2 separate regions of the Homo sapiens genome follow, and region 1 is linked to region 2. The links come from fine-mapping of genetic effects on gene expression. Tissue or cell type: whole blood. Region 2 holds a variant in brackets; the other region holds the start of a gene. All regions are shown on one strand. Distances are from middle to middle.

What was found. PIP is the estimated chance that this variant, and not a neighbour inherited with it, causes the effect.
Region 1: it holds the start of ZNF662, and the variant in region 2 is fine-mapped to the expression of ZNF662 in whole blood (TOPMed, PIP above 0.99).

Annotation. Positions count from the first base shown.
Region 1 is chr3:42,904,816-42,907,502 of GRCh38, forward strand. ZNF662 (zinc finger protein 662) reads left to right here and starts at 1,327. Exons shown (of 5, transcript NM_207404.4): 1 at 1,327-1,353.
Region 2 is chr3:43,081,638-43,084,324 of GRCh38, forward strand. All of the region lies in intron 1 of POMGNT2 (protein O-linked mannose N-acetylglucosaminyltransferase 2 (beta 1,4-)), which reads right to left. Among named protein-coding and RNA genes, the nearest start is that of POMGNT2-AS1, 3.1 kb to the right of the region's middle. The variant C/T (reference allele first, on the strand shown) is at 1,660.

The DNA.
Region 1 (2,687 bases), 180 kb before region 2:
CTGACTTTCAGTCTGCTGAATGCAAGTGATGAGGGCTGACTCTCTTGTCATATATAGCAAGCTCTGAATAATAGTCTTTGTTCTCATTTGAATAATCTTTATTTTCACACTTCTTAAAAAATTTAATTTCCTGGCATGTTGCATAATGTTAGGTAAGCCATTTTCTCTCTTTGGGCCTTACTTTCTTCAACTGAAAAACTGGTTCAACATTTATTCATTCTTTTATTCCGTAAGCCAAAAATAAAATTCAAAGCCCTCTGACCATATGAATGGATCTCTCCTCTTGGCTAAGGGCATTCCAAAGTTAACGTGAAAAACTGGTTCAGGCCATAATGGGAAGGAGGAGTTGGACATGGCTCATTATGCTCCCCTACCTTTTGAAATTCAGGACCAGCTGACCAGCATTAACATCAACACAGACCTTAAGACTGATAGAACAGCCTCTTTAAGTCTCACAGACTATCCGGTAGTGTGATAATGATGAGAAACATTTGCAGTCTATTCTCTGAAGCCTGCTACAGGCTCCATCTGCATGATAAAACTTTGGTCTCCACAAGCCCTTATCTTAACTGAGACATCCCTTTCTATTGATTCTAAGTCTTTATACAATAACTTAACTCTTTCAACCAATTGCCACTCAGAAAATCTTTGAATCCACCTATGTCCTGAAAGCCTCCTCTTCCAGTTGTCCCACCTTTCCATACCGAACCAACGTACATCTTACATGTATTAATTGATGTCTTATGTCTTCCTAAAATGTGTAAAACCAAGTTGTAGCCCGACCACGTTGGGCACATGTTCTCAGGATCTCCTGGGGCTGTGGCACGGGCCATGGTCACTCATATTTGGCTCAGGATAAATCCCTTCAAATATTTTACAGTTTGACTTTTCGTGGACAATTCTACAAATATTCCTTGGCAGTTAAAGAAATAACTCCCCAGGAGGTGCTAGACATCGGGCGCATGTTAGAGGCACAAAGATGAGAATGTTAAAAGACATAAAATACAGGTCTGCTCTGGGAATGCAAAAACTGGTAAAAGGAGAGATAAAAGAGCAGGTGCAGTCTAGTGAAGTACCCGCTACCTCCTATCAGCAAATATCTGTCCACCTAGGGTGCAGCGAGCTGGAGAGGAAGGGGTGGCCTAGAGCGCAGGGGAAGGATTCCTCCCCAGCCGCCTGCACCCCTACCCCGGTAGCGGTCCCTGGGATCGTCCGTGTCTCCAGGAGAACCGGACCGCTCTCCCCTCCCTCCCCGAGCGAGAAAGGAGGACCACAGAGATGCGGCGCCCTCCGCCGTCCTAGAGCAACCGGAGCGGCCCGAGCCCCGGCCTCCCGGATGCTGGGGCCTGGCGGGTGTGGAGCACGGGGAGTCGGGCGTGGGGCGGGCAGGGAGTGGAGTCGGGGTCTTACTCCGGTGGCTGCAGGGCGCAGGGTAGCCGTGTCAGGCCTGCCCAGGTGCAGAGCGCTCTTCCGCGACCCCAACAGCCTCTGGTCCGGTCTGGCGCGCCCTCGCTTTCCCAGAGGGCGACCTGGGCTATGGCGGCCGTGGCGCTGGCGAGCGGGACACGCCTCGGCCTTGTCCTCGAGCTGCTCCCGGGACAGCCCGCGCTGCCCCGGGCGCGCCGGGTGAGTGCGGGGCCGGAGCCTGGAAGCAGTCTTGGCCCTGCCCTGGGTTCTAGGCCCGGAGACGGGGTGGTGCGGCGGCTGGGAAATGGGGGTACAACCCAGAGTGAGGGGCCTCGAGGGACAGGCAGCACAGCGGAGTCGACACCCCTGGACCTGAGCCTCAAGGAGAGCAGACGTGCAGCGGCACGGGGTTGAGCCGACTGCTGGGGCAGAGCGCACAGAGTGCTGTCGGGGGCGATGAATGGCCAGAATTTCAGAGCTGCCTTTACAGAGCTGGTTATGTTTGAGCTGGGTATTAGGTTGAAAAGGAATTTGCAATGCAGGAGCAGGAAGGAAGAACTGGATATTCAGGCAAGAGTAGCCGCAGGTGCAAGGACACAGAACAGGGTGAGGAAAGAGTTTGGTTTCCCAATGCAATGGTGAGAGGATCGGAGATGAGAGTGGTGGTGGCTGATGATCCTGGCCAGGAAAGCTGGGTCTGTGAGTAGTGAATGGAATTGTCTGTAGTGCAGAGGAATGTGGACTCTATTAGGCAGACAAAGTTGAGCCAGCCAAAGCCTTGGAGCCCTGGAGTGCTGGATAAATAGCTGTGGAGACTTTCTAGTGCGCAAGGACTGAAGTGCAGTGGACCAGAATGGGCTCCTCCACAGTGTGGAGACTGAGACCCTGAAGGAGGCAGTGGCTGAGAATTACGGGAAGTCCCAACGGCTGGAGGTCAGCAGTATTTGTTTCTTAAGAGGATGAGAGAAAGAAGGTGCAGGAGCTGAGACTCCTAGAGATATAGAAAATGGGGACATGGAGATTGGGACGTGGGTAAGCAAGTGAGGTGGGATCTTTGTGAGAGTGTTGCGGGTGGTGGGGGTGCAGGGAGTAAAGTCACAACGAGGATCTGCCCTGTTGAGTACAGTGTTCAGAGCAACCTGAATGTTCTGAGGAGCCCTAGCTGCCTCTGTGGCTGGTGGCAGTGACTGGGGAGGACAAAGGAGGAAGAGTCCTATACAGGGGCAGCAGGGATGGCAGGAATGGGGACGGAAGGCAGTGTGGCATAACAGGCAAGAGCC
Region 2 (2,687 bases):
CCGCTACAGCACTGGATCCTTGCAGCCATTGTGCACATTGGTAGGCGTGGTAGATTAGACCATTGTTTAAAATATTCTCTCCCTCCCCATCGCCTCCATGTTGGAAAGTGCATCCCCACACCCGACTTTGGGCTTAGCCATTTAACTTGCTTTGGCCAGTGAGATGTCAGCAGACAGAACATAATCAAAGGTTTGGAAAGTGTTTGGGCTGGCCTTGCCCTCTTTATGACACTGCCATAAGAAGAATGTATTCAGGCTAACTTGCTGGCCCCAAGAGGAGCGAGATACGCATGAAGCAGAACTGCTCCGGCCATGCCCTGTTCTAGTTCAGCTGATCCCTCATGACTGAGTGGGCCCAGCCAAGAGCAGCAGTGCGATCAGCCAAACGCAGCCAAGATCAGCCAACACATAGACATCAGGGCTGAGCAACAGCTGATTAAACATCCCTGAAATTCTGGGGCTGTTTGTGATGAAGCACTGCTGCAGCAAAAGCTAACAAAGAGAGGCCATAGGAAAGACAGGCCATAGGAAAATCCCTTGCAGGGGCCTGACATTCCTGGACTCTGGGTAATGACTTTTCCTTAAATGAGAACAACTGGCATTGGAGATCTGTGAACACTGTTCCCAGGTTGCACACCAAGACCCCAGTATGCCGCCTTTGAGAGACACACACACGTATGGTCAGCTAAGCTTTGCTCCTGCTTAAAGCTCCTTTAGAAATCATGCCTGCTGGCTTTCAGAATCCCTTAGGAGGAGGGTAGAAACTTGTCCCCTCAGTGGTAAGATAATTGTATCTGGGTATCATCATTGAAAAATGTTTTGTGTACTGAGGCAAAAAAAACCAATAGGGTTTTAAATGCCCTCTCCCATATACACACACTGACAGAGAGGCCTGGCTAGGGGTAAGCATTTACTCCCTCTTCTTGCGATATTGTGAAGGGTATCATGCCTGCTCTGGGACCCAGGATTATTCAGACAGTTGAAGAAGCTCATCCTTTGTGACACAGGAGCAGCACAGGTAACAGCTGACACCTGCAGGGCACTGCACCGGGAGGGAGTAGCTGCTCCTTTATTCCCTTGTGGCTAGGTCCTGATGCAATTCCTGCCTCCCTGCAATGAAAAGAATCCAAGTGCATCTTGCCTAGAAAGAGAAGGTGTCTTTAGCTAGGTTCCCTAAGAAGTAGAGTCAGGGGCAAGGATTTGAATCAAAACAGTTTGAGAAATTATCCCATGAAACACGTGTAGGGGAATGGGAAAGTGAGAACAGAGAAGGGACCAAAGCCAACACATACAGGGTACATTAATGAGCAGTTAATGCCATGTGTAGCCTTCCTCCCATGATCATATGCTGGATATAGTATGGAAGCTGGGATACATGTCTATCAACTCCTGTTGGGCATTACTTAGTTGAAGGTCATTCCTGGAGGCATGAGATCTCTTCTGGCCTACTCTTATCCAAAGGTTGGGCCCACACATATGAATATATCATATACTCCCCACCTCCAAACTTCAGGAAATGAAAATTACCGTGACCAAGTATCATACATTCTAGCTTTTTTTTTCTAGTACACTGTATTCTAAGTTCATTAACAACAACAGAAACAAAACAAAACAAAAAACCTGCCCATAATCATCTTAATTAACTTTCCGACCTACTCA[C/T]CAGGTTGGCAACTTACTGTTTAAAAAATACTGGTCTACTCCAGATGTTCTCAAGCCTGGCTGATTACTGGAATCCTCAGGAGTAGTTGCTAAATAAAAATCCATATTCCCAGGCACCAGTCCTGGAGGTTCTGATTCAGTAGGTCTGGAGTATGGCTCAGGCATCTGCATTATTTGTTTCTTTTATTTCCTGCCTTCTTGTGAATTACTTGAATTCCACTTTGATTTATCAGTAGTGTTTTTGAGTATATCCCTTGATATAGATTTTCTAGTGGTTGCTCTAGGCATCATACTATAATCTGTAACTTATCACAGTCTACTGGTATTGACATTTTACGTTTCGAATAAGTGTAGAAACTTTACCTCCACCTAGGTTCCTTTATAATTGTCTTATGTGTTTCCTCTACATATAATGAGACCCACATCAGACAGTAATTTTGGCTTCAACTGTCAAGTATGATTTCCTCAAGAGGGAAAGGATCATCTATTATATTCACCCATATTTTTACTCTTTATGTTCGTCCCTCATTCCTGATGTTCCAGGTTTCCTTCCATTCCTATATCCCTTCTTTGAAGAACTTCTGTTAGTTCACTATTCTTTTAAGGTCAACTTCCTGGCAACAAATTCTCTTAGTTTTCCTTCATGTCGAAATGTCTGATTTTAGCTTCATTCCTAAAGGATATTTTCACTGCGTATAGAATTTGGGGTACAGATTTTCCTTCTTTCAGTATGTGAAAAATGATGCTGTGACACCTCCTCTGGCCTCTGTGACTGCTGATGAGGAACTGCTACCCTTCGAATTGTTTTTCCCTGGAGGGAATGCATTGTCTCCTGCTGCTCTTAAGATTTTGTTGAGTTTTCAAAAGTTTGACTCTGAGGTGCCTTGGTGTGGGTTTCTTTGGGTTTATCCTCTTTGGGGTTTGCTCAGATTCTTGAATCTGTAGGCTCATGCCTTCCCCCAAATGTGGGAAATAGCCATTATTTCCTTGAAAACTTTTTCAGCCCCACACTGCTCTCCTAGGACTCC